Linked DNA regions of Homo sapiens. The protein of the gene in region 1 interacts with the protein of each later gene in a pairwise test. Each region holds a gene or a part of one and is shown in the gene's direction. Other genes may lie near its edges. The genes, in order: STAM2, SH2D4A, COL26A1 and ENTREP1.

Region 1 (7,383 bases):
GTTTCTATTGCTCTTTTAATTTTATCCTACATAGTTTTGTTTTTCTTTTTTTCTTTTTTTTTTTTTTTGAGATGGAGTCTTGCCCTGTCACCCAGGCTGGAGTGCAGTGGTGCGATCTCGGCTCACTGCAACCTCCACCTCCAGGGTTCAAGCCATTCTCTGGCTCATCCTCCCAAGTAGCTAGGATTACAGGTGCCTGCCACCATGCCCGGCTAATTTTTGTATTTTTAGTAGAAATGTGGTTTCACCATATTAGCCAGGCTGATCTCGAACTCCTGACCTCGTGATCCGCTCACCTCAGCCTCCCAAAGTGTTGGGATTACAGGTGTGAGCCACTGCACCCAGCCTTATGCCCAGCTTTTTTTTTTTTTAAAGACAGGGTCTTGCTGTGCTGCCCAGGCTGGTCTCAAACTCTTGGCCTCAAGTGATCTTCCTGCCTCAGCTTCCCAAAGTGCTGGGATTATAGGCATGAGCCACTGTGCCTGTCCCTTATTGTCCTTTAAAAATAGGAGCGGCCAGGCGCAGTGGCTCAAGCCTGTAATCCCAGCACTTTGGGAGGCCGAGGCGGGTGGATCATGAGGTCAGGAGATCGAGACCATCCTGGCTAACATGGTGAAACCCCGTCTCTACTAAAAATACAAAAAATTAGCCGGGCGTGGTGGTGGTGGCCTGTAGTCCCAGCTACTCGGGAGGCTGAGGCAGGAGAATGGCGTTAACCCAGGAGGCGGAGCTTGCAGTGAGCCGAGATCTCGCCACTGCACTCCAGCCTGGGCAAAAGAGCAAGACACGGTCTCAAAAAATAAATAAATAAATAAAAATAAAATAGGAGCAACACTGAAGGGGGTAGACTTTCAGGGTTTTGAGCTTTTAACTTGGTTCTGCTCCCTTATTTCTCAGCTCTCTATCTGAAGTCATAGGGAGAACCTGTAGTGAAAGGAAAACAAGGGATAGGGCTTAGTATTCCATCATCATCCCTTTCTAGTGGTATTTATTGAATTAATATATAAGCAGCACAAGAAGAAAAGATTAGATAGGACCAAAATAAGAAGGAGAATATAAACTACTTCTTTTCTGCCTCTGCCAGAGAAGTGCAGTAGCAGCAGGACTTTTCCTAGTCACCAGAGATTGTCGTCTTTGTTCCAGGGGACATTTTAAAAATAAATTTGTTGTGTTTTCTAAAGAAATGAAAAATCTGTGTGGCAATTAACAGTAGTTTTGCCATATTTTAGAGAAAGCATTAAATATCTCGTTACACATCTACTTTGTTTCAATGCAGCATGTTAATGTTCAGTGAATAATCAAACTGGAAAAGATTAAAAAGTATTATGATAGATGTGGCTGTATGTTTAGTTCAGACACAATTTTTTTTAATTTTTTGTATTTTCAATTTGAAGTTGGTTGAGTGCACGGATGCAGAACCCATGGACATGGAGGGCTGAGTGTATGTCCACACATTCTACAATGGAAATCATTGTCCTTGATAATTATCCCTTGATATGAGCAGATATTATATAATGAAAAAAGGCAGAAACTATGACAATTTAATCTTATTTTTGGTTCATAAAAAGAATTTTGTTAAAGGAAAAGATCTAGAAGAATTAGAAGTCAGATTGAGGCCAGTGTGGGGGCTCACACCTATAATCCCAGCATTTCAGGAGGCTGAAGTGGGAGAATCATCTGAGCCCAGGAATTTGAGACCAACTTGGGTAATACAGTGAGACCCCATCTCTACAAAAAAATTTTTTAATGATTAGCTGGGCTTGGTGGTGTGCGCCTGTAGTCCCAGCTCCTCAAGAAGCTGAGGTGGGAAGATCACTTGAGCCTGGGAGGTCAAGGAGGCTGCAGTGAGCCACGGTTGCACCACTGTACTCCAGTCTGGGTGACACAGTGAGATCTGCTCTCAAAAGAAAAAAAAATCAAAGTGACCATTCTGATATTAGTTAATTTTTTGAGTGAGAACTCAACCATTAACCATTTTTCTTACCAGTTTCAGTTTTTGAATAGGCCAACTGGCATTTTTTCTTGTTCTATGGCCACAGCTGCAGATGCAGCTCCTGTTCTGGGAAATGTTTCCTGTTCTTCAACAAATTCTTATTGACTATTATTTACCCTTGTCAAGTATTCAAAGATGAATAAAATATCCTTTTTTCCCTTGAATGGATCATGTTTGTTATTCCTACTAAGAAAAACATCTCTACTGTTAGAAAGTTAAATTGTACATTTCATTTTTGTCATTGTACAGAATGAAATTTTGTAGCATTTTATCAGCCTAAGAAATTATATTGAGTAAACATGTAAATTGACTCCATAAAAGTTTAGGTAGATTTGTTGAAGAGAGATTCATAGTCTGGACTTAACTATGTTCCAGACTATTCTAATCTTATTTCCTCCTGTCCTCCAAAGGTAATTTTCTACCACCTGATCAAGTTGCTCTTTTGCCTTATTACTCTGGGATTGTGTCTCAAATCTTTAAGGGGATTTCAAACACAGTGATCATGTCTTTCTACTGCATTTTCCTGGTGTTTCATCAGCATGCTGGGTTTTGTGGATCAAATTCCTACGGTTACATTTTAGTTATGCATTTGTTAGCATGGCACTAATTTCTGTAGCTTTCTGGGTGACTTGTAACTGATTTTTTTTTTTTTTAATTTGAGACAGAGTCTCGCTCTGTTGCCCAGGCTGGAGTGCAGTGGTGCAATCTCGGCTCACTGTAACCTCCGCCTCCTGGGTTCACACCATTCTCTTCCCTCAGCCTCAGCCTCCCGTGTAGCTGGGACTACAGGTGCCCGCCACCACACCTGGCTAATGTTTTGTATTTTTAGTAGAGACGGGGTTTCACCGTGTTAGCCAGGATGGTCTCGATCTCCTGACCTCGTGATCTGCCTGCCTCGGCCTCCCAAAGTGCTGGGATTACAGGCATAAGCCACCGCGCCCGGCCTGATATTTTTGATAATAGAGTTTGACCTGCTTAATGCAGTCATTCTTACCAGAGAGAGAAGACTTTTCGTTGTTGTAGTTCAGACATAACAGACTCTAGTAGAGGAAAAGTGACAAATCTTGATAGGACTCAGTCCAGGCTATTTACTTGGTAGTCCTGTGTCTGTCTGTGTGCCTCTGCTTGTTGCCTCTCTGTGTTTATGTAGAAAGAACCACATTCAGTAAAAAGGCTTGTGGATGTTTCAGGCCAGATGAAAAGTGGTTGCTTAGCTTTTGTAAATTTGACAGTGCAAAGAGAGTTCTTTATTACTCCCAGGGGAACTATCAAGTAGAAAGAGTTTGCTCTGAAGCTTCTTGGGCAAATTTGAAGATGCTTTTATTTGGGTTTGTTGTTATTACATAATAAAGCATTGGTTTACTTTCTCAAAATCAACCAACCAACAAATGAGCTGTAGAGATTAGTCTTACTTACACATTGTTTTTACTTGGATTTTCAAGGATAATTATTTAAGTAGGTTTTTTTTTTTTCAGTTGACACTTTCATGGATATAAACAAATGAAAATGTGTGTGTGTGGTTTTTTTTTAACAAGTGTTTTTAAATTTCCATCATATTGTACTTCATAGAGGTTCTGAGCCTTGCCTGGGTACTTTCTTTTATTGAGATTTTTAATTAAGGCCCAGATTCTTACCCAAATTGAGAATTTTCTTTTTAATAATTGAATTCTCAACAAAAAACCTAGAATGTGTGAAAGTAAATTCTCTCAGCACCGAAATTATGAATTGATTGCATTTTATGAGGTGTGGAAGGACTTTTCCCTAATATTATAAAGTCATATTGTCACCAGTAGAGGATTGTGACTGCAAGTTGTCCATGTTCTTAGCATTTTGAACAAAGAATTGGACAAAATGCCCAGCAAAGCAAAGAAAGATGGAAGCAACAAAAGAACAAAAGCAGGGTTTTATTGAAAATGAAAGTACACCCCACAGTGTGGGAGTGGGCCTGAGCAGCAGCTCAAGGGCCAGGATACAGAATCTTCTTGGGTCCAAGTACCCCCTAGAAGTTTCCCATTGGCCTTTTCGTGCTCACCTCATGTAAATGAAGTGGAAGCTCACAATCAGTCTGATTGGTTGCAGAAAGCAGCCAACCAGAGGCTGAAATGAAGTTACAAAGGTAACACTGCTGTGCAAACATCTGATTGGTTGCAAAAAGCAACCAATCAGAGGCTAGGGTGAAGTTACAAAGTTATATTTCTTTGCAAATGAAGACTCCGCCCACAGTCAGTCTGATTGGTTGTGGACAGCAACCATTCAGAGGCTGAAGTTACAAAGTTGCAAATGGAGACTGGACCTGTAATCAGTCTGATTTTTTTCGGACACCCAATTTCCCATCTGCTGCACAGAAAACGTGGGGGGTTTGCAAAGGAAGTAGCCTCTGGTCCTTTTGTTACTTAGGTGTGGAAAGTTAGGGTTGGTTTTCCTTTCAATTTAGTTATAAGAAGTCAGCTTGAAAATCAGCCTTAGATTCCCTGCCTCCAGACCCTATTCTCCTGCCTCAATATCAGCCTAGCTATTACAAGGATTAAGCAGTTCTTCCTCTTAGTTTCCCTTTGTGAATATTCTTTCATTAAATATAAAAAAGCCTTTTAATATATTAATAGAAATTGTGCTAAATTAAAAAAATAATTTATATTACTAAATACATGCTAAAAACTAGAAGAGTATTATAATACTTTTCTTCTACATCAGGAAGCATTCAGAATTGTCTGAATTGAATGTTAAAGTCCTGGAAGCTCTGGAACTATATAACAAATTGGTGAATGAAGCACCAGTGTACTCAGTCTATTCAAAGCTCCACCCTCCAGCACATTACCCACCTGCATCATCTGGGGTTCCAATGCAGGTGAGCATGTTTTTTGAGAACATTTTCTAAATTATAAACAACTTTTAAAAGTAAAAGAAAATGTTTTATAGCATAGTATTAAGATTTCTTTTGTCTGTGAATAAAATTATAAAATTTATCTTTGATTGTTTCAGTAAATATTGGCTAAACAATTAACATTCACCAGAGCAAATTAGACAGATACTGATATTTCACAAATACATTTTAGTTCAGTTTTAACATGGATGAAAAGACCATTAAATATGTGAGGGTAGTTCTGGTTCTTCATATGCTTTTGTAAGTATAAAGCATAAATCTTTTATGTAAACATAAATCCTTTTTGTAAATATGGAGTATAAATCTTTTGATTTAGGACAATACCTGACATATCAGAAGTTCCCCAGGTGAGGTACTAACGCTTTCCTGCTGCTCAACAAGATTTAACATTTCTTTACAAATTTCCATAAAGATTTATTTGACTTACATGATTATTAACAGGCACAATGAACTTCTAGAGTATGCTTTATACTTCCTTTACTTAGCTGCATGACTTACATTGTTAAAAATCTGTGCATAGCAAAGATATGATACATGTCTAGGAGGTACAGACTCCGTAAGCCATCCATGAACATCCATAAGCCATCTTTTTCCAGTACTTTTCACCTTTTTTGTGTGCTTGCCATGTGAAGCGAATACTTACATTTGTCAGTATCCCCATTCGGAAGCGTTTTTTGAAATTTCAGCCAATTAGCCAATTGAATTCAGAATGAGCTTGGATGAGCAAAATTCATGTTAATTTATGAAAACTGGTATGTAAAGGTGCATGTGAAGGAGACACCAAGGAGAAAGGGTAGAATGTGGGTGCATAATTTAGATGACTTGACACAACATAATTGTTAAGTAAAAAAAGAATAGTCACTATGGTAACTGTCACGTCAGACAAGATACATTTATCAAATATGCCATGCCTTGATCTTTTTGAAAATTAGGAGGGTAGGAAAGATTTTTCTGGCTGCAAAAGACCTTTGGGATTTATTCAGTTTGCTTCTGTTTTCAGAGTTGTTCGCTGCTGCTGTGAAAGTGGAACAAAACAGCAGTGTCTGCATCATTGTATGATAAAACTTTATGTTTGCTTTTTTGTGTGTCTGTAAAGGGTTATTTGCCATTCTGTGTCAGGTTTTGGTGTTTAGTTGCATTCTACTTACTGCGTTTTGCCAAGCACAACTCATGTCTCTAAAAAGTTAACTTTCTGTTTGATTCCTCACGTAATCTGTACCTACACTGTTCACTCAAGAGCATTTGAAATATTCAAAAGTTTCTATTCTAATTTGACAAAAATATATCTCTACTAGAAGCAGTTGGGGTAACACATTAGTTATATTGTGTAGGCTACTCAGGAACCCTAAACTGCAGAAGACGCTGATTCTCACAGTCTCAGCCTATTGTCAGTAGATTGTTACATGTCTACTAAGGAGGTAATGTGATTGTACTTAATATAGCTTATTTGGCATTTCTAGCATTCTAAATTTTCAGATGAATGGTATTTACTTTAAAAATAGCTTAATTTAAAACTGGATTGATGATCATTATGGTATGATATGATATTAAATGTATGCATTGTTTTGATGCTATATTTAGTAGACAGGTGGTAGACCCTGTCCTTAAGGAGCTGTTGTCCTGAAAATAAGTAGGGCACATATAAATGTCCAAAGAGACCTAAACCATTTTTGCTGTTTCCTGAGGATACATGTCTTTTGCCCATAACTCTTCTTTACTTTTGTCCTGTTTGTCTTAAAGGTAGAGAATAAGGTAGACATTGCCAGGGAAGCCCTGGCACCCTTATACCATTTCTTTTTCAGCTTTTTCTCTCAAGTTTCTTTCTTAGGAAGGAGTTGGATGAGTCATCCAGGGATGAGGGTAAAGAAGGTTATCATTCTTATAGTGACTTTAAGTGATGGTGGGCTTCCCTTCAAGGGAGTGTATAGTTTTCTGTGGCTCTACAGCAAGACATCTTTACTGAGTAATAGGCAACCTGGATAGATTGCAATCCACTACTTAAAAGTACACCACCTGTCTTTCTCCCAGCTCTCTGTAAAAATAAAAGAACAGCCAAACAAATCAAATTTCCATAGATTTGGCACTGTGATTTGACAGCTCTCCACTTTTAGTTCTAAGATGGATAGATTGGTAGAATCAGATTGCTTCCCAAAGAAGTATAGTTTCTTTCCTTTAAGTCTTTTAACATTTTAAATATATTATTAGGCACATGTTTGGGAGATGAGTGAATCAACTTTTTCTTTCTGATTAATAGACATATCCAGTTCAATCACATGGTGGAAACTATATGGGTCAGAGCATTCACCAAGTAACTGTTGCCCAAAGCTATAGCCTAGGACCCGATCAAATTGGTCCACTGAGATCTCTGCCTCCAAATGTGAATTCCTCAGTGACAGCACAGCCTGCTCAAACTTCATATTTAAGGTAAGTTTTGGGAGCTGTGTTAATTTTATATGTGTTAATTTTCCTAGATTTTCAGAATGAGAATATATAGACCCTTATTAAGATG
Region 2 (7,383 bases), on another chromosome or scaffold:
GCTGAGGTGCTGGAATCCCTCTGCTCTTCCTTTTTCTTCCCCTGGCACAGTGCCACTTGCCATCTTTCTGGGCATCTTCCTCTTGCTGTCAAAAAAAAAATACCGACAGAGAACTACTTAGGTGAAGGCTGAGAGGCTGACATAAAAAAAATATTATTAGTTGGCCTGAGAGAGTGTAATAAAGGGAGTTTTATGAGGTATGACAGCTTTCTAAAGTTAACAAACCATCTGGCATTATGTCAAACAGACAAAGAGCTTGCCAGGAGCTGGCACTGGTGCCCAGCCCCATTTGGGCATGGTGGGATTGACCTTCCCCTCCTTACCTGGAGGCCACATTTGCTGTTTCTCCACAGTGAAAACAGTAAATGGGAATTCTTTGGTAGTGCAGAGTCTGAGTCTGTTCCCTCTGCCCAGCGTCTCTGTTTAGAACATACTGCAGGAGTGTCCACTGTACCAAGAAGGGTAGAAAGGGTCAAAAGAAAGCACGAGCCTGGCTTTGAGCAGCCTGCTTTGGTAATGTATCCCAAGGCCACAGTACAAAAGTCAAGAATACGTTGGACAGAAGACACCTTAATTGGAAACCTCCTTTGACTTAGTGTGAGAGGACAAGACACAATCCCAGTGTGGATGTTTTGCTCATCAAACAGGGCCCAGCACACACACCAGCCAGGTGCCCTCTTCCATGCAGTCAGCACCACTGCTAGTTTGGGGTCTTGACTAGAGGTCCACCTTTGGCCCACAGTTGCCCTGGGTAGGCCTGACAGACTCAGGGATGGTCTCTGTTGGCCTCTCCTAGGTACGCTCCACCTGCCCCCGGTTTAAGGGAGCATGACCGATGTGGCCGCATTTCAGGAGCACTAGGATATAATCTAACCTGGAGGCCAATTGTAAACAAGGGTTATTTAAGTAGCTTCACCAAGTATCATACTACCTGGTTATATTATCTTCTCACAGGCTGGTGTGAATCTCTGAGGCAGCCATATAAGTAAATAATAGGCTAGCAATGATAGCAGTTAACCTCTATTGAACTCCTGTTATGTGGCAGGCACTAGGGGAAGAACTTGGCACAGGTAGCCTGCCTGCCCACAGCAACCCTAGGTAGTAAATATTGGTATTCCCATTTTGCAGATGAGGAAATTGAGTCTAAAGAGTTTAAGAAAGTTGTCCAAGTCACATAGCTCGTAAGTGACAGGGCTAGGATTTGAACTCAAGGTGGTCTAAATCTAAAATACCTCCTTATCTGAGGCAAGAGGATTGCTTGAAGCCAGAAGTTTGAGACCAGCCTGGGCAACAAAGCAAAGCCCTGTCTCTACAAAAAATTTTAAAAATTAGCTGGGCATGGTAATGCATGCCTGCATTCCTAACTACTATGAGCTCACCACTGCACTCCAGCCTGAGTGACAGAGCAAGACACCATTTCTAAAATAAAATAATAAATACAAATAAAATACAATATAAATAAAATAATAAAACCTGCTTTTTACCCACCTATGAAGCCTGTGAATGTAGTACAAATGCCACACCCTTGAGCAGCTGTGGAATTCTGGGTTACAGGGAGATAGTTAGATGTAAGAATTTATGGTGTGAAGTGCTAGCTCTGTTACCCTAAAGGATAATGCAAACAATGAATGCTTGCTTCCCATTTCAGTTTCTTCATTTATAAAATAGGCACATGCAGCCAGGCGCAGTGACTCACACCTGTAATCCCAGCACTTTGGCAGGCTGAGGTGGGTGGATCACGAGGTCAGGAGTTCAAGACCAGCCTGGCCAAGATGGTGAAATCCTGTCTCTACTAAAAATACAAAAATTAGCTGGTCGTGGTGGCAGATGCCTGTAATGGTGAAACCCTGTCTCTACTAAAAATACAAAAATTAGCTGGGCATGGTGGCAGGTGCCTGTAATCCCAGCTACTTGGGAGGCTGAGGTGGGGAACGGCTTGAACCCAGAGGCGGAGGTTGCAGTGAGCCAAGATCATGCCACTGCACTCCAGCCTGGGCAACAGTGTGAGACTGTCAAAAAAAAAAAAAAAAAAAAAAGCACGGGCAAAAAACATACCCCTAATATTTTTAAAACAAATATTTTCACTGAAGCTGCCTCTCACTGCCACCACTGCCATTGCTACCTACAGATGTTCCTGAGCAGTTGGAAGTTCTTTGTCTCATCTGATATATATATATATATTTTCAAAGACCCAAAATACTTTAGTGATGGAAACAGTAATCTGTGACTAAAGATATTTGTTCAATCTGAATTTTTTGTTTGTGTGTTTGTTTGCAGAGAATGGCAAATCGGTTCATTGGAAACTTGGAGCTGATAAGGAAGTCTGGGTATGGGTGATGGGCGAACACCATCTAGATAAACCCTATGATGTGCTCTGTAATGAAATTATTGCTGAGAGGGCCCGGCTGAAAGCAGAACAGGAGGCAGAAGAGCCCAGGTATGAGATCTGCAAACCAACCAGAGACTTAAAGACTCTCCAGACTTTAGAAAACATTGCAAACACACCTCTTGCTCACAGTATCAGGTGGGAGAGTAGGGTTGGGTTGGAGGGTCACAAAAGTCACTTTGGATCTCTTTGGAAGGTTGATTTAGACTTTTGGTCTAAAGACCTTTTGGATCTCTTTAGAAGGTTGATTTAGACTTTTGATCTAAAGTCTTTGATAGCACTAAAGACCTCATGAAAATCTTTAGTGCTGTCAAATCAGCTGCTTCATCTCCCTGCTTGTCATTCCAGTTTTGATCTGTATGAGTGTATGAGTTCCCCAGTGATCACCCGTGGCTGCACTAGAGTCATGTTAGAGCAATGCAGGCCGACGCAGCTGAGTATCAGGAACATATGTGAGAAATGCAGTGACTGTGCAAGCTTCAGGCCTTCCAAGGAGATCACTTAGATACAGGCGGCTGGATAATCAGGCTCTTTAGGTGCCTACCCAGTGCAAGGTACTGGGAATTCAAAGAGAAACAGGGAGCTTCCAGTCTAGGAGGAGAAGTAGACATATGCACAGCTCACTGCGGCCAGTGCAGGCTGTGATTTGTGCTATAATTAAGGTACAAACAGAAAGTTTACCAAGCATAGGTGGGAACCTATCATTCTGATCCACAGACGAGGTGAAATCTGAACCAAACCTTGAAAGGAGTGGTTTTCCAGCTACAGAAGGCCAGGAAGGAAAGTGCAGGCAGAGGGCTTAACCAAGATCCCTAGACTTGACTACGGATGGTTCTTTGGGGAATGATGAGGTCTTCTGAGCATTTGGAATACACTTGGACAACTGCTTCAGAGGCCAGATTTAGGAGTTTGGAACTTATTCTCTGGACGGTGAGGTTTTTCAATAGGGAAGTGACATCAACTGCAGATGTAGGAAGGTAACTCGGAGGGAAACTGAGGCAGGTGATGGCGCTCCTCTGCTGGGTACCTGGGGTGCTCTGGGTGTCCTCCTCTGGCTCTGGGCAGTGATGTTGACAGCCTTACCCTGAGGTGGTGAAGTGGAAATTGGGACAGACATGAGGACCACCGTTCAGTTCCCAAGGGCTAGGGATGCAAAGCAGACTCTGTGGCACAGTGGATGGTGCATTGGACTTTCAAGGGCTGGGATGCTGCCCACTAGTGCCTGTAACTTTAAAACTATCCATGGACATATGAAGATAAAGGAATTATTTAATCATCGATTGGAAGCAGACGGTGTGGTTCTAATAGGTTAACTTCTAAACCAGGAGTTGAGCAGACCAGGGTTCAGATCTTGGCTGTACCACTATGTGGTCTTGGATGAATTACAAAATTTCTTGGAGCTCTTATAACAAAGTGAGGATGACAATGCCTTCCTCACAGGGTTGTGATGAGGATGAAGTTAACGTCTTTACACACCTAGCAAAGGGCCCAGCATGTTAGAAGCACTCAGTAAGTGGTGTCAGTTACTGTTTTTCACATAATTTGAATGTCGACATATGCTTTGGAAAGGCTCTTCCTGTTGAAGAATGTTTTTTGAGAATTTCACTTTTGCCTCTCTTCAGAAAAACTCACTCTGAAGAATTCACCAATAGCTTGAAAACAAAATCACAGTACCATGATCTGCAGGCTCCGGATAACCAGCAGACTAAAGACATCTGGAAGAAAGTGGCAGAAAAGGAGGAACTGGAGCAAGGATCGAGGCCAGCACCAACCCTGGAAGAAGAGAAAATCCGAGTGAGTCCTTACTGTCTGTAGACGTGCGGAATTTCATCATGGGGGAGAAAAAGCTATTGAGGCCACAGAGACTACTGTGGCTGAGTGTCAGGATCCTCCAGTGGCTTTCTTGGGAGAAATGCCTCCTAACTTTAAGATCCTCCAGGGCAGGCACGGTGGCTCATGCCTGTAATCCCAGCACTTTGGGAGGCCAAGGCGGGCGGATCACGAGGTCAGGAGATCGAGACCATCCTGGCTAACACGGTGAAACCCCGTGTCTACTAAAAATACAAAAAAAAAAATTAGCTGGGCGTGGTGGCGGGCGCCTGCAGTCCCAGCTACTCGGGAGGCTGAGGCAGGAGAACGGCGTGAACCTGGGAGGTGGAGCTTGCAGTGAGCCGAGATTGCGACACTGCACTCCAGCACTCCAGCCTGGGCGACAGAGCGAGACTCCATCTCAAAAAAAAAAAGATCCTCTTGCTCATGTCACTTGGGGGATTTACCTTCCATGCTACATCATGGAAAATAAAGCACCCCTATTTCATGAGACTGAAAGTAACAAGAACGCTAGGAATGCAATTTGGCATTTTAAGATATTTTCAGGTTCTCCTCAATGCTGCCCCATTATATGTCTTCTGTTACAGCAGAGGTTGGCAAACATTTTCTGTAAAGTGCAACATAGTAAATGGTTTAGGCTTTATGGGCCATGCCATCTTTGTCACAGCTATACACAAATGAATGAGCATGGCTGTGTTCCAATAAAACTTTATTTTCAAGCACAGGCTGAGGGGCAGATTTGGCCTGTTCATGATTTAGATTACATTCTACTGAGTCTTAGCCTTTTTGTTGCGGATTCTAAACATCAGTGCCTGTTGGGCTTCATTGGCTCTGCCTGTGACTTGGGGACAGTTACCTCCCCAACATAATAGAAATTTTATACTCAGAATTGGTATGAATTCTCTTATGGTTCAGATGGTTTAAAAAACTCAAACATAATTTGCTGGTTGGATTATAGTTTGGGAGAACAATGAAACACCTTATTATTCTACCAGGAATTTAATTACACTGAGAATTAACAGGGATTTGCAGTTGTTTGATTTCCATTTATGTCTCCAGCCCTGCAGCACTGGCTGTGTGTGCTTTTGACTTCTTTGAGGCTATCATATGGGAATACAGGTATCTCCTGCCTCCTCCTAGGACCTAGTGAGACTCTGATAACTAACATGGTCAGGGGTTATTCCACAGCAAAGCACACTGCTGAGTGTCTCATGTAATCCTCACAATAACATGAACTAGAGACATTTGTCCATTTTACAGCTGGGGAAACTGAGGCTAGGTGTGGTTAAGCAACCTGCCCAAGGTCTTATTCAAACCCAGGTCTGCAGGACCCCCAGGCTATTCCTTAAATATTAACTACTAACTCCTTAATTCTTAACTCTCATGTTTGGTTGTGTCATTAATATGAGGGCTATGAAGAAGCTTTTTATGAAGGGCTACAAATATGAGGCTCAAAATATTTAGGAAGAGAAAATTCTAAATTTGGTTTTTCATCTCAAGGTCAGCCCTGGACATGCTCCCCACATCCTCATTGAGGCCTCCCGTCCTCCCCAGGTGTGCTTTGCACTCAGCATGTGTAACACTAAACTCCCCCAACACGGCTCCCCTTCCCACACCCCTCCAACCAAGAACAACAGTAATAACAAGAAAGCTCCTTCCAGAGTATTAATTATGCAGCTGAGTGTGTTTGCTCACACTTGTAATCTCAGTGCTTTTGGAGGCCGAGGCAGGAGGATCCCTTTTGAGGCCAGGAGTTCCAGACAAGCCTGGGCATAATCCTGCAGAGACAGTGAGACCCCCATCTCTACAAAAAATTAAAAAAAAACAGCCAAGCATGGTGGTGCATGCCTGTAGTCCTAGCAACTCAGGAGGCTGAGGCAGGAGGATCGATTGAGCCCAGGAATTTGAGGCTGCAGTGAGTCCTGATTACACCACTGTACTGTAGCCTGGGGGACCAAGTGAGACCCTAAGTCTTAAAAAAAAGTATTAAGTATGTATGCTTATATTTGTGCTTGAATTACAGTACTTTTTTAGACCTTTTTTTTTCAAAAGTAGGACAAAAGATTAAAATGGAAATTAAAATAGATACCACAGTTATTATTCTTTAACCATCTCATAAATATTATATTGAGAGTGGCACTGTTGCCTTCCTTAGGTGCCTGCTAAACTGACATATGGAAAGAGATGGGGGCAGGGGAGAAAGAAATATTCAGATAGAAGGAATATGGAAATAGATGGGTGACAGGTTTTTATATTCCTGCTTTTTATCTTTCCCTGTGTCAGAGAAGATGCTGTCAGGGGCTCCTGTGGTATTTGCTGAAGTTCACTCTGACAGCAGGCCACACAGCGAGGAGCCTGATTTCACAGCTAGTGTGAGCCTTTAAAGAGGTCGTCTGCTACCTCTCAGACAACTGACTCGATGGTACATTTATATTTTTATTGTAAGTTGTGTATATGTCACTATAGTGGTCTGAATATTTATCCCCCGAAATTTATGTCCACCTAGAACCTCAGAATGTGAGCTTATTTGGAAATAGATCTTTGCAGATGTAATTAAAGTAAAGGATCTCAAGATGAGATCACCCTGGATTTAGGGTGGATCCTAAATCCCAAGACAAGTGTCCTTATAAGAGGAGAGCCAAGGAAAATGTGAGAGAGAGTGTACTAGTCTGTTTTCATGCTGCTGATAAAGACATACCCAAGATTGGGCAGTTTACAAAACAAAGAGGTTTAATGGACTTACAGTTCCATGTAGCTGGGGAGGCCTCACAATCACTGTGGAAGGTGAAAGGCACGTCTAACATGGCAGCAGACAAGAGAGCTTGCGCAGGGAAATTCCCATTTATAAAACCATCAGATCTCATGAGACCCACTCACTATCACAAGAACACCATGGGAAAGACCCACCCCCATGATTTAACTGCCTCCCACCAGGTTCCTCCCACAACACATGGGAATTGTGGGAGTTACAATTCAAGATGAGATTTGGGTGGGGACACAGCCAAACCATATCAGACAGAAACACTGAGAAGAAGGCCGAGTGAAGAAAGAGGCAGAAAGCAGAGTTATGCTGCCACAAGATGGGAGCCACCGGAAGCTGGAAGAGGGGGCATAGCCCTGCACAGCCTTGATTTCTGACTCTAGTCTCCAGAACTGTGAGAGAGTAA
Region 3 (7,383 bases), on another chromosome or scaffold:
GGTGTGTTCATGGGCAGGTGACCTGTGGGAGCACCTGGGGCTCCATCCCACGCTCCCTCTGGGAGACGGTGGTTTTGAGAACGTTTCAGGGGCAGCCACCTTAGGGCGATGAAGCCAGGCATCTCTCCTGCTCCTCACTGGGTAACACTTACCCGAGGGTACCTCTGTCTCAGCAGGCTCATGCCAGCTCCTGTGGCTGGAGAAAGCCCTTGGCAGAGTTGCAGGTGGCCACAGGCAAAAGCCAAAGCCAGGTGGGGCTGAAGGGTGCGTGTGGGGCGCCAACAGTGTCTGCCCCGATGGGGACAAGCCCCGTTCTCACCCAGAGGGCTTGGTAAGCAGGCTCTGGTGTTTAGCCAGAGGGGCTCGACCTGAGGGAGGACAGGTCTGGAGGGATGAGGCAGCCTCCAAATATCTACAAAGCCTCTTGGGACAGCAGGGTTGGCTGCACTGCCTGGCCCCCCAGGGGAGAGCCAGCACCAGGAGGCTGGAATCACCTGAGCCTGAGGCAGAGCTCTCTCCGGGGAAGAACTGTGGTGACCAGAGCACGTGGCATTGTCCAGAGAGAGTGTGTGAACAGGGCCACGTGGCAGGGAGGACCAGGGACCTGAGACGGTGGGGCTGGAGCCCCAGGCAGCAAGAACCCCTAGAAGAGAGCAGGGCCAGGGTCAGCCATGCCTCCACCCAGAAGAGCACACATACACACGCATGCATACCCACATAATACATGTGCACACACATGCACACATAGGCACCTGTGCACACACATCTGTGTGCATGTGGAGACACACATACATATATACACATACAGACACACACATTTGCACATGTGCACACAGACACATGCACACACACAAAAACAGGGACACACATATGTAATACCCATGGTCACATGCACGGATACTCAGGCATACATACACACACACACAAGCATGCATGTCAATGGGCACACATACATATACACACACACACACACACACACATGACACAACTGTGCACACATTAACACACACAGCCCTTGACAACTCCACATTACCCTTGGCCCTGACTTCCGCCCTGGGGGTTGCAGGTGAGTGTGGCTTGGAGTCAGACATTTGTGGGACCACCACCCGCCAGCTGGGTGACTCTCTCAGAGCCCCCTTCCTCATCTGTAGAATGGATCAGAGCATCAGCCCTGCAGGGCTGTTGAGAGCCTCCAGGGAGATGGCAGTGGGAACCGGCTTTGGAAATGGTCTAATGCTGACCAGGAGTCAAGGATTAGTGCTGTCACCCACGCCAGCCACGTCACTGTTCCCGCCTTACAGATATGAACACAGGTGTGCGGGAGACATCTGTGCAGAGCAATGACGGGGAGCCCCACGGCATGCATTCGCGGCTTCCCTTGTCCTCCAGCCCTTCCATGGGCGGGCAGGGTCTCCCAGCAGCCCAGGCCCCTGGGCACAGGCCTGGGATGGGAGAGACCCAGCTGCTCTCCTTGGAGTCTTAGCTCTTGTGGGGCAGGATTGGAGGGCTCCAGGGAGCAAATGTTTCCACATGGGCTGAGCCGGGGCCAGGACCCCCTAGAATGAGTATAGGGGAAGATGTTGAGCCGGTAAGCTTCTGGCACCTGAGATTTTAGAAAAGGCAGGGTCCCCGAGCCATGCCCAGCCTGATGGACATTTTCCTAGTACCGGAAGCCTCTGTGTGGTTTGGCACAGAGCAGCAGCCCTGGCCTCAGCCCAGTATTGTGGGTGTTAAAAGTCGCAGCTCTAGGGTAGGATGGCCACATTGCCAGCTGTCCCCCACCCACCTGGCCCACATCCTCCCATCATGAGCAATTCCTCCCTGTGGTCTTCCCGGCCCTGACACCCTCTCCACCAAGGGCCCCAGCTCCATGGCCTCCAGCAGCAGGCCCGGGGCAGAGCTTTGTCCTGTGACCCTGAGTGAGAGGACTGTGTCCTCTCTGTGTGCCTCGAGGGCTGGAGGGAGGGACAGCAGTGCGTGGGAGGAGCCCAGGCCAAGATTCCCACCCTTCCTCCACTCCATCTTGGCCAGCCCTTCCCTCTGGATCTCAGTCGGATGGCCTGGAAAATGGAAATTGGAGTCACTTCGTTTTGAGGCTGGTCCAGAGTGGGGAAGCTCAGGCAGCTCTCGAGTGGGGAGCTGGGGTTGGTAGCTTGGGCCTGGAGTGTGCAGAGATGGGGTAGCTCTGCAGCCCCCGTCCTTTTGACAGTTGTCTGCATTTCTAAGTAGGGGCTGGGAGACTCCTATCTTAGCTCCCCCGTCTTGTCTGGAGCACCTTCTGGCCGCCCACCTGCCCACTCCATGCCCACGTATGTTGAGAGGGCCTCTAGGAGGTTTTTTTAGACAAGGTCTCGTGCTATCTCAGTGTGGTGGCGTGATCTCAGCTCACTGCAACCTCTGCCTCCTGGGACAGGTTCAAGTGATTCTCCCGCCTCAGCCTCCTGAGTAGTTGGGATTACAGGTGTGATCCACCACATCCGGCTAATTTTTGTATTTTTAGTAGAGACGGGGTTTCCCTATGTTGGCCAGGCTGGTCTCAAACTCCTGACCTCAAGTGATCTGCTCGCCTTGGCCTCCCAGTGTTGGGACTACAGGCATGAGCCACTGTGCCTGGCCCCACTGGCAGCTTTGATGGCCCAGATCAGAGGGCCCTGAGAGGCAGCGGCCTGGAGAGGGGAAGGGAACACCAGCTGGGCTAGTTGCCAAGACAGCCCAGCGGCACCAGAGGCCATGCCGAGGTCAGGCGAGTCTGCAGGAGCCAGGACACGGAGCTGGGTTTTCAGCTTAGATCAGAGGCTAGGGGTCAGCCAGGGCAGAGGCTGGGATCCTAGCAGGGTGAAGGCAGAGCCAGGACAGGAGCCAGGCAGGCAGATCCCAGACAGGGAAGCAGAAATCAGATGGCTTGCATAAAACAGCAGCAACCCAGAGCCTGGACACTGGGGCTTCTGCTCCCTTAGACAAGAAGTCTGCTTTGGTATGTCGGGAAGGAGGCAAATGAGAGAAACCTGGCCAATGGTAGCTTATTCCATAAGGACATTTATTGTTTATTCCACAAGAAGTCCAGGAGCAGAGGTGGTCTCGGGATTGGTTTGGTGTCCAAAGAAGCCAGGCTCTTCGCTGACTTCTTAGTGAGCTGGTTGATGCCTCATGATTATAAAGTGGCTGCTGCAGCTCCAGGCATCACATCCTCACCTTGTATGTAAAGGCAGGAAGTGGAGGGTGAGGTGAAGCACCCAAACAGACTCCTTACGTTTCATGAGCCTGTGCTGGGGCAATGTGACCACCTCCTGGTTGCAAGGGAGCTGGGAAACTGAGTACCTGGCCAAACAGAAAGGGATGGCTCTGCCTGGCTCAGGCTGGTCCTGATTCCTTTCCTGGGTCACATGTACAGAGTCACAAGAGGGAGTTCTGGGGCAAGAGAAGAAGGGGCATTGGGGGCCAGGCAACCCACAGAGTCTGCTCCATCTGCTCTCCCACTGGTGCAGACCTAGAAGCTGGTCCAGGATTTCTGCCACCCTCTATTCCTGGGACAGGCTGGCAGGCAGAAGGCCAGCAGGGTACCGGGGAAGATTCCTGCTTGCCCTCCCCTCTCCTGCCCCGGGCTTTACTCTCTGACCTCATGGACCACAAACAGTACACAAGAGTCACAGAAGCCTCAGAGTCCCAGCAGTCTCTGGTGCAGAGGGCAGTGTCCCGGCTAGTCTGCCAGGCCACAATGACATCATCAGGGCCACTGCCCCCGAAGGCCGTGGCCTGGTTTTCTTGGCCCCACGCCCATGGCTGCCCACCCGGGTGAGCTCATGCCTGGACAGAAATGGGATCAGTTTCTCCAGGTCAGACACAGCCAGGCCAGGAGGGCTGAGACGCTGGCAGGGGCAGATTCCAACCAGGGCTCCTCTGCCCAGGTCTGCAGGCTCTGTGGGCAGGGGTGTCCCAGTGGGAGGTGCCCCATGAAGGAGAGAGCTAGGCCTTTTGTACTGGCTGGCAGGTCACTTCGGGGGAAGCCAGAGCTTTGCCCAGAATGGGGAACACTAGAGGTTGCCTGTAGGAGGCCAAGGCGGGACCCCTCCCCAGATCTCTCCAGGCTTCACCCTGCTCCCTCCTCCTCCACCCTAGCCTCCCCACACCATCCCTGCCTCCTCTCATGGTCCTCTACCTCCACTTCCCAGCCCTTGGGACCACCCCCTGTTAAATATGGCCATCTGAGTTCCCCTTGGGATACTGCAACCCACCCCCGCCAACTTATCACCTTCACTCCCAAGCCTGCCCCTCTCCCGTGCCCTTGTTCGACTGGGGGCATTTCTACTATTCCCAGCAGCCAGGCCTGAAAGGGGAGACACACTCCAACCTTCACCCCACCTCCTGCCCCCAGCCCCAGGAGCACCAGGGCCTGACGCTCCTCCAAATCCCCTGCGCTGGCCATCCCAGGCCCCTTCCATCACGTGACCTGACAGCCACCGTCTTCTTGCTCCTCTCCAGAGCCCCTAAACTTGGCTGTGGCCCGTCAGCTTCTTCAGGGGTGCCAGTGGCTGGGGCAGGAATCGGAACCCTTCTCTCCTCCTGGAGATTCAGGAGAACGGGGTCCACCCTTCACTGCCGTGTGATCTGAGCCAGCTGTCCCCGCTCTCTGTGCCTCCACGAAGCTCAGCCGGGGTTGAGACAGAACTGTTGGGAGGATAAACTGTGGTTTGGTGGATGAGGCACCACTAGGGGCCCCGGCCTCACCGCCCATTTGCTGGGTGATCTCAGGCAAGTCACTTGCAGTCTCTGAGCCTCTGTCTCCACCTCATTTGTGATGTCGCCGCAGTGACCCTCCCAGTTTCATGGACCCTTCTAAGGACCAGAAAGGGGAGGGGCTGAAAGAATTGGCTCTGGGGGGTTAAGGGGCCCTGGGCCAGGCATCCAGGCCATCGGAGGACTGTGTCCCATAGAGGGGTGGAGGGGGAGCCCGTTCTGCAGCCCACAGCAGGGCCTGAGCCCAGGGGGCCCAGCCAGAACCCTGGGTGCAGGGTCAGAGCCCTGAGCAGCCGCTAAGTGCACCCTGGAGACACCCCTGCTGGGGAGGAGCCCAGAGCAGGCCACTTTGTCCCCAGGGATCCCAGGACTGTCCCCCAGGCCCAGGGGCACTGCAGAACTGGTGAGGGAGCTACTCAGGCAGACCATCTGCCTGTGCACCATGGACTCTCAGCTCAGCCCAGCAGGTCCTTCACGCCCCTCGGCCCCAGGACCCACCCAAGTTCCCAGCAGGGATCTCCACCCACCCTGAGCCTATTTCTGGCACACAGCGCCCCCTGCTGGCCTCTTCGGGGGCAGCAGAGACTCACGGGGCCTCTGAGTCCTGGCTCTCAAGTTGTTTAAAGGAAGGAGAAAGTCTCCCGGTCCCGGGATCTGGGTCTCAGCCACCTTTGACTCCTGCCTCCCTCAAGGAGGGACAGATGGGGCCGCATTGCAGGCTGGTCCCAAGCAATCGTGGCCACTTTTGTTTTTCTGGAAAGTCTTCTAAAGGTCATGTGCCACAAGGGGCCTATTTATACCCACCCTTTCACTCTCCTCCCTCCCTTTCTTCCCTTCCTTTTCTGTCTGTGTGTGTGTGTGTATGTGTGTGTGTGTGTGTGTGTGTGTGCGTATGTGTGTGTGCTTTTTTTTTCTCTCTCTCTCTTTTTGTAGATGTGGTCTCGATCTGTCACCCAGGCTGGAGCGCAGTGGCACAATCATAACTCACTGTAGCCTTGAACTCCTGGGCTCAGCCTCCTGAGTAACTGGGACTGCAGGCGTGTGCCACCACGCCTGGCTAATTTTCTTTATTTTTTGTAGAGATGGGGGTCTCACTGTGTTGCCCAGGCTGGTCTCAAACTCCTGGCCTCAAGTGATCCTCCAGCCTCAGCCTCTTAAAGTGCTGGGATTACAGGCATGAGCCACCACTCCCAGCCAGCACAGGGACTTTGACGGTGTCTGAAGGGCACTCCTTGAACCTGAGGGTCCAGAAAGACTTTCCTGATGTCAGAAGGAGGAGAGGGCTGGGATGGAGGGAACCTGGGCCACGAGTGAGGTTCTCCCACTAAGGAGCGTGACGGGGCACACACAGCGTGGACAGCTGCAGGTCTCATGGGGTGCACATGCATGTCCCTGTGTGTCACGCATGTCCCTATGTGTCAGGCCCAACTGGGACCTGACTCTCTATCTCCTTTGGCCCAGGTCCTCCTGCTAGAAGCAGCAGAACGGCCCTCCAGCCCGGACAACGACCTGCCAGCCCCCGAGAGCACTCCGCCGACCTGGAATGAGGACTTCCTCCCCGACGCCATCCCTCTTGCTCACCCTGTGCCACGACAGAGAAGGCCCACGGGCCCAGCCGGTGAGTGAGGGCTGCAGAGAGGACAGGCTGGGGCAGCCGAAGGGACCTTGGGCATGGCCTCCCAGGGCCTCCCTAGAGAGGCCACACACTAGACACTCTAGTTCCAACATGCCATGTGGCATTTTGAAAAATTAAGCTAACAGTTGAAAATGGGTATTTCACCTAAAAGCCAGGATTTCTAGTTTCTCTTAAGAAGTAGACGATCTGGTCAGGTGCAGTGGCTCATGCCTGTAATCCCAACACTTTGGGAGGCCGAGAAGGGTGGATCATTTGAGGTCAGGAGTTCGAGACCAGCCTGGCCAACATGGTGAAACCCTGTCTCTACTAAAAATACAAAAATTAGCCAGGCGTGGAGGCAGGTGCCTGTAATCCCAGCTACTCAGGAGGCTGAGGCAGGAGAATCGCTTGAACCCGGAAGGCGGAGGTTGCAGTGAGCCGAGATCACGCCACTGCACTCCAGCCTGGGGGACAAGAGCAAAATTCCGTCTAAAAAAAAAAAAAAAAAAGTAGACCATCTGGCCGAGCATAGTGGCTCACTCATGCTTGTAATCCTAGCACTTTGGAAGGTCAAGGCAGGTGGATCATTTGAGGTCAGGAGTTCGAGACCAACCTGGGCAACATGGTAAAACCCCCATTTCTACTGAAAATACAAAAATTAGCCCAGCATGATTAATCCCAGCTACTCCTAAGGCTGAGGCATGAGAATTGCTTGAGCTGGGGAGGTGGAGGCTGTAGTGAGCCAAGATCATGCCACTGCAATCCAGCCTGGAAGACGGGGTGAAACCCTGTCTCAAAAAAATAGATGATCTTGGGCAGGTGCAGTGGCTCACACCTATAATCCCAGCACTTTGGAAGGCTGAGGTGGGAGGATTGCATGAAGCCAGGAGCTCAAGACCAGCCTGGGCAACATAGTGAGACCCTGTCTCTACAAAAAATTATAAAAATAAAAATGAGAAAATTGGCCATCAGGGCTGGCAGTCCCTCATGGAAACAACCAGCTACTGGGTTGCCACTGTAGGTCCAGTCCAGGC
Region 4 (7,383 bases), on another chromosome or scaffold:
AGAAGCAGTAGATACTGTATTTATAGAACAATTAAATACAAATTTAAGAGGATGGCTTTAGGCACCATGACTCTCTTGGTGCTTTAGGGGAAAAAAGCCTTGTATCACATGTTTTGAATTTATGCATGTGACAGAGGTTGTTTTTTAAAAACCTCGTGTTATGGAAAAGTTTACATTTATGCAGTATACGATGAACCCACATATACCTTTCACCCAGCTTCAACAATGGTTTCATCTGCACCCCCTTCCTGGGCTCTGCTGCTGGCCTTGTGTCTTCTGATAAACTTCAGAAGGATGAATATTCCAAGCAGGGTGGGAATTAGATCCTTCGTGCTCCCTAGTCCATTTGTGAGATTAAATTCTCTTATTGTTTGGAAGCAAATCTCAGGTGTCACATTTCATCTGTATATATTCCAATGTGTGTATTTTTATCACAAGAAAATATAACCAGCATAGGATTGAGTGGGCAGTCCGAAGAACCATTCCCTTCAATTTTAAATCTTTTATTATAAAAATTTAAAAACTCAACAAATGTAGAAAGAAGGGTGTAATGATCCCGCATTTTACCCTTCACCCAGTAGCTATCAACACATGGCCACTTTATACCTAACGCTGCTCCCCCTTCCTAACACCCCTGGATTATTTTAAGGCAAATTCCAGGTATCACAACTTCAGCCATTAGTATTTTAGTATGTACTTATAAAAGAAATGGGCTTGATAGGACATTGTAACTAATTCAAAGACAGCTAAACTAAGGTTTCTATAAAAAAAAAAGTTGGAAGATTATGAGTTGAGAACTGCAGAATTAAAAAAGAACACAGCTTTGACATATATTCACATGCCATACAACTTACCCATTTAGCATTTAAAGTGTACTGGTCAATGGTTTTTAGTAAATTCACAGTTGTGCAACTATCACCACAATTTTAGAAAATGTTTATCAACCCTAAAGTTTTGAGTAGTTACTCCTCATTCTCCACCACCCCCACCCCTAGCCACCCACTGATTAACCCACTTTCAGTCTCTGTAGATATGTCTGTTCTGGATATTTCATATACAAGGGATCATATAATATGTGGTCTTTTATGATTGGTTTCTTTCACTTAGCATGTTTTCAAGCTTCATCCATGCTGCGGCAAGTCTCAGTACTTCATTCCTATTTTATTGTATGGATATGCCATGTTTATTTATTCACTCACAAGTTTTATTGGCATATGAAGCTAGGTAGTTGAATGGAAGTGCCAACTTATGTCTAAGGTTACTTCAAACCCACATAGGAACACAGTAGAAGAATATCCTCATATTTCAAGCTTTGACCATTAGGATCTTTAGCCTGCTATATCAACTGAACCCACACATCTTCTTTAGGCTTCACTGAAAATTTTGCTTGTGTATTTGATACAAAATTAGGTTCAAGAGACAAATATATTTATTTGAAATGACTATTTGTTGAACACAGTATAGTTCAAGGATATTTTTTCATATGTATTTCCTTAAGAGAGCCCTGAGCCTGAGATTTTGGAGGCTTCTTTCACTTGTTTGAACTTTGAAGGTATATTTTATCTATTTTAAAAAACACTTAAGAATTAACAAATTCTATAAAGCATCTTTTTTCATAGTTTTCATTCATACTTTCAGCAACTTGAAGGGAGAGTTTTTAACGTAGTCTGTGTTTTTGAGCACTCTGAGCATTTGATTTCTTCCTGGTATCACCGGTAAATCACTCAATATATTATTATTCCCAAAATTCGTGAAGCTAAGAGATGAGCCATCTTGAAAAACAACCTGGCATTTGACTGGAGGTGAGTGGCTAAGGGAGGATCTCAGTGTCTGTCTTCAGCTGTGCTGTCCTAGCTCTCGGTTTGGGGGGTGCGTTTAGTGTTAACTAGATTCCACTGGGGTGTGGGAGTTAACGAGATTCCACTGGGGTATGGGCGTTAATGTTAACTAGATTCCACTGGGGTATGGGAGTTAACTAGGTTCCACTGGGTTTAATTAGATTCCACTGGGGTATGGGAGTTAACTAGGTTCCACTGGGTTTAATTAGATTCCACTGGGGTATGGGAGTTAATGTTAACTAGATTCCACTGGGGTATGGGAGTTAACTAGGTTCCACTGGGTTTAATTAGATTCCACTGGGGTATGGGAGTTAATGTTAACTAGATTCCACTGGGGTATGGGAGTTAACTAGGTTCCACTGGGTTTAATTAGATTCCACTGGGGTATGGGAGTTAATGTTAACTAGATTCCACTGGGTAAGGGAGTTAGCTAGGTTCCACTGGGGTTAAGTAGATTCCACTGGGGTATGGGAGACTCAGTCGGCCACACTGCACTAGATTTAATGAAAGAGGAGAGAGAGTTGCATTGGGTTGTCTCTCCTCCTTCAGAAACAAAATTCCTACCTTTGATGACATGCATGATCCTTGGGAGATATTTCAGATGAGTGGTAGAGAATTGGTTGTTGTTTTTTACTCCTCTCTGAGTGCCCTATTATTCTTTATCAGTTGTATACATCTATGTCTGTGCTTTAAGTCACTGATCTAAATTCATGATCATCCTTTGAGTCCATGATTCTTTGGCAAGGTTCTACTTTCACGTAAAGAGACAGACATTGGTGAACTTTAGGGTGAACCTTTGTAAAAAAAATCGCAGTGAATAAACATAAAGAAAAATCAATGGACTAAACGAAAAACTAACATAAAGATTATGGTTACTACCAGTTAAATGATAGTAAATATTTTTTATCATACTAATCAAATACTACTTTAATATTTAAGGGATATTTAAACTATAATTTTGGGGATGAGTTTTATTGATTTCTTTGGTCCTTTATTTTGCATATCAGCAGAGTCACCTTTATAAGTTCTGTGCCTCTTGGCCTCAGTTACTCATCTGTCAAATGGGTGGGATGCTTCTTCTTCTTCAGTGCTGATTTTGTCAGGGTGTAGCTAGAGTATACATAGGAGAGTGCATCACTGCTGGACCCAAGCACCAGACCTGGAATACACGGGAACCTGTATCAATGGTTTTTAAATACCGAGGTAATAGTTAATCAAAGTAAAATGAACAGGCCAGTATTTTTGTAGGACATTATAGTTACCATCATGTTTTCATTAGAAATATTCAGTTGCCCACTTTCTCAATTTGTTTTTTTTAATGAGCTGTGCTAGACAGATAGGGAAGAAATACACACACATACACACACATTTTTTAAAAAGTTGCCATTGTAAGAGCTATAGGGCAGGGTAGGTTGTTGAGAAGTTTGACATATTATTTTCTGCTTATTTACAAAGTAACACAGGACATTTACAACATGGCTTTTTAAAAATCTCTGTGTTTACATACAGCAGCTTTTGATAAATGATTCAGAACATTTTTGCCCTAATACAAGTTAATGGATTAGCAAAGGGAAATAGGGCAGTAGAATTATAAGCTTCTGATCTTAACGATTTGGTTTTTACGTTGGAAAATGAAAGCACATTAACCATTTATGGTGGGTAACAATGACTCTTCCCTGGGGTATCTCAGAGCCCTTCTTTGCAGTCTCAGAAAAAAGGAAAGCCCTCTGCTTTTTCCTGTAAGCTACAAGAAATAGGTTATCAGTGAGTGAAACAAAAATTGTAATACCTCTCATAATAATATAGAGATTGTTTGGTGTTAGAAAATAGGTTCTTACCTGTTCATTCAGGGCAAGTTTCATCTTGCGCTGGATGGAAAGAATGCTGATGGAGTTGCTTTTTGTTGCTGCTGTACTCTTTTAGGAAGCACAGGGGATGAAAAGTGTGTTTAGTCTTACATAGTCATCTTTGAGCAATGTCATCTCCTGTTTCTGGCCTCCATTCATTCATTCACTCATTGACTCTTGCCATAACTAACTGAGTGCCTTCTGGGAACCTTTAGTGGTGTGTGAGTGAGTACGCACAGGTCCAAGCCCTCATCGTGATACAGTTAAACATTTGATAGCATTGTGGCATAATGGGAGCCATGGAAGGACATTGTTAAGGGACCTTCTTGGCTCATTTCTGATGGAGCTCCAGCTACTGCTGCCACCAAGGGAGGTGGAGGCATTGAATACTCTGTCTCCTTCTCTTCTTCTTTTCCCAACCCCTTTCCCCGTCTGTGAATTCTGCCTCCCTTTCAGATGAAATGGAAGCATCATTCCTTAAGTCTTGAGCTCTTAAAAAATTTATCCCCAACTGTAGCACCTCTGTTCCCATTACCATTCGAGAGGCTTCTAACCATCCAGGCCTACTTCCTCTATTTGCTTTTCTCCCCATCACCACTCACAGGGTTCCCCAAGTGCCTCAGGGCTTCACTGGGCTTGAAGAGAGGGAGAAGTTGAATAAAAGTAGGTGTGTGCCTTTGTTGCGGGGTTCAGGAATGAAGAGCTGCAACTATAGCTCCCGCCTGGAGCTGGAATATAGTTTCTTAAAACATTGTAAAGAGCGGTGGCTTACAAGAATCCTGGTGGGATTTAACTTGAATATGTGCTGAGTCTGTAAAACAATTTAAATGGAAATGACATTCTTAGTTTGTCTTCAATCCATAGACTTGGTATATGCCTTGACTGACTTGGCTATTCATTTAATATTGCGCAATAAACTTTGTATTTCTCCCCAGTGAGGCCTTAAAGATCTTTGTCATATACATTTTGAGATTATTGATGTTTCTCATTTGTCATGTATTTGTACATATATACATTTTGTACATATTTTTTAACTTACATTTTCTATAGTTTGTTGCTACCATATGCAAACAAAATACCTCCCCTCCAAAGGAAGAAATAAAGATAGCTTAGTTCTTTGGTTTCAGAGACACCTCATTTGAAATGACAGTTGACTCTGTCATGATCTATTAAAATAAAAAGAATAGAAATACCTTTCAACTTAGAAACTTCACTCCTGGGACTTTTTTCCGCTGAAATAAAAGCACTTGTTTTTAAAGATATATGTTCATAGATGTTTACTGCAGCATTGTTTGTGACAGCAAAAAACTAGACATAGAATGAATGCCCATTAATATGGAAATGATTGAATACGTTAAGTACAGCCACACGATGGAATGTTATGTAGTCACTAAAGTAAAATGAATTAGAGCTGTTCCAATGCACATGAAGAGATTTCTATGAAGTATTTATTGAGAGAGAAAAGGAAGAGGCAGGGAAAGTATATCTTTTATGATTTTTTTACAAAAATTACATCCCTGTGAGTGTGTATATATACACATAGACATGTGTGTGTAGTAAGAATTTAGAGAAAAATACATATATATGTAAAATATGTAAACGTGCTAGATTGTTAACATGGAGGAGGGTGGGGTGATGTGGCTGTGTAGGTGAGGGGGGCAGAACAGTTTAGGCATATTGCTATTTTATGGGCTTTTATGGCTGGGGCTGGACACTTCCTTTTAATAATATTATTATTTTTTTTTTGAGATGGACTCTGTCACCCAGGCTGGAGTGCAGTGGTGTGATCTTGGCTCACTGCACCCTCTACCTCCTGGGTTCAAGTGATTCTCCTGCCTCAGCCTCCCAAGCAGCTGGGATTATAGGTGTGTGCCACCAAACCCAGCTAATTTTTGTACTTTTAGTAGAGACAGGGTCTCACCGTGTTGGCCAGGCTGGTCTCAAACTCCTGACCTCAAGTATTCCGCCTGCCTTGGCCTCCCAAAGTGCTGGGATTACAGGTGTGAGCCACTGCGCCTGGCCAATAATATTGTTTTAATAGAAAAAATACATTCCAAAAAGCTGAACCGCAGGGTTCTCTATTAATGGAGACCAGTAGCATTAATGTCAAACGCTAACTAATAATTCAAATCATATTTTTTACTGAATTGGGAGATTTGTGTTTTCCTTAAGGGCAGTTGAATATGAAGTTATGTTTTCACAAGAACAGCTTGAATTTCCTCAGCTAAGTCCAGTAGGCACCGGAGTGGGCAGGTGGGATGCACATGCACAGAGGGATACACACATGCACACACATGTGCACACACATGCAAGCACATGCATACACACATACATGCACAAGCATACGTGCCTACACCCTGAGTCACAGATTTCTGAGGAATCACTGTCATCACTATAAGGTAAGTCTTTTGAGCTAGAAGAGACCAAGAGATGGTTTCCTTCCCTTACAGCATTTCTAAAGAAATAAGTGAGGACCAGACAAGTGAAATGACTTGGCCAAGGTCTCATAGTTAAGTCTTTAGAAGCTGAGTGGGAGCCTGGAACCCAGGACCTCATGGATTGCAGTCCCAATTTGTAAAGTAGGTACAACTCACACACTGTGAGTCACACACGCCCTGCCCTGTGTCTTCAGGCAGAAATTGTTTAGGGTAAGGAAATATCCTATTGGATTTAAAGGGATTGCAAGGTTAAAGTGCCTGGTGGGCAGGCAGCTAGTAGTACCTTTAAACATAGATGGCACACAAAGAAATTGTCACCTATCTGCCTGTATATGGTTTTTGATCCTTGATATAAGTGGGTAGACTTGTCCTATGCTGGTCTGATGCTGCAGAATGATTACTCTCAGCTAGTGAGAATGGAGAATATTGCAAGCAGGCCTGTGGGTTTTGAATTTGAAGGGACACTGTCAAGTCCTTACTGATCTGTAGTTGATAAACACTGATTGTGAAATGGTGCATTTGAGCAATTTGAACAAGTATAATGTGCTTGTAGAGGAAAACCTTCATGGCTGCCTTTGGCAGACACACTTTATTTTACAAAGCTCAGAGTGCTCAAATGGCATCAGCACATCCCAGGCTGAAAAATTACTTTGATTATCATTTCCCAATTGTTTATCAAACTGTGTTATCCAAAGGGCTGACCTTGGTTTCCAGTTTATGTTTTGGCAAAATAGTGGCCCTTTCCTTTCCTTTTCTTTTTTTTTTTTTTTTTTTGAGACAGAGTCTCATTCTATCGCCCAGGCTGGAGTGCAGTGGCGCGATCTCAGCTCACTGCAACCTCTGCCTCCTGGGTTCAGGCGACTCTTGTGCCTCAGCCTCCCAAGTAGCGTCACCATGCCCAGCTAATTTTTTGTATTTTAGTGGAGATGGGGTTTCACCATGTTGTCCAGGCTGGTCTCAAAGTCCTGGGCTCAGGCAGTCCACCTGCCTCGGCCTCCCAAAGTGCTGGGAGTAACAGGAGTGAGCCACCGCGCCCAGCCTGTTTTTTCTTATTGAGATTTTTTAGCTCGTTTTTTATTGAAGTGTCATTTTGCAACATGAGCTCCTTCTCACAGTAGTTCCTCCCACTTTGTGGAATAAATGCTCTAGAACATATATTAATTGCCAACAATTGGGGCACAATGCTGGGAACTAGGACTTTAGAGAGACAAGACAGGAGTTCACAGTTAGTAGGTAATTCAGAGACACATCCCTCAATTA

Evidence for each region.
Region 2: the proteins of STAM2 (region 1) and SH2D4A interact in binary tests that used the Homo sapiens proteins (3 or more experiments, as listed by UniProt).
Region 3: the proteins of STAM2 (region 1) and COL26A1 interact in binary tests that used the Homo sapiens proteins (3 or more experiments, as listed by UniProt).
Region 4: the proteins of STAM2 (region 1) and ENTREP1 interact in a two-hybrid assay, tested with the Homo sapiens proteins (2 studies listed by BioGRID and IntAct).

What each region holds. Positions count from the first base shown.
Region 1 is NC_000002.12:152,123,681-152,131,063, reverse strand, and holds part of STAM2 (signal transducing adapter molecule 2), read left to right. Parts: intron 1-4,684; coding exon 4,685-4,838; intron 4,839-7,128; coding exon 7,129-7,298; intron 7,299-7,383.
Region 2 is NC_000008.11:19,330,678-19,338,060, forward strand, and holds part of SH2D4A (SH2 domain-containing protein 4A), read left to right. Parts: intron 1-2,277; coding exon 2,278-2,437; intron 2,438-4,008; coding exon 4,009-4,180; intron 4,181-7,383. UniProt on the Homo sapiens protein: Inhibits estrogen-induced cell proliferation by competing with PLCG for binding to ESR1, blocking the effect of estrogen on PLCG and repressing estrogen-induced proliferation. May play a role in T-cell development and function.
Region 3 is NC_000007.14:101,533,698-101,541,080, forward strand, and holds part of COL26A1 (collagen alpha-1(XXVI) chain isoform 1 precursor), read left to right. Parts: intron 1-6,195; coding exon 6,196-6,352; intron 6,353-7,383.
Region 4 is NC_000009.12:69,327,898-69,335,280, forward strand, and holds part of ENTREP1 (endosomal transmembrane epsin interactor 1), read left to right. Parts: intron 1-1,427; exon of another isoform or gene 1,428-1,802; intron 1,803-5,683; exon of another isoform or gene 5,684-6,264; intron 6,265-7,383. UniProt on the Homo sapiens protein: Functions as an activator of the E3 ubiquitin protein ligase ITCH in the ubiquitination of the CXCL12-activated CXCR4 receptor. Thereby, triggers CXCR4 endocytosis and desensitization, negatively regulating the CXCL12/CXCR4 signaling pathway.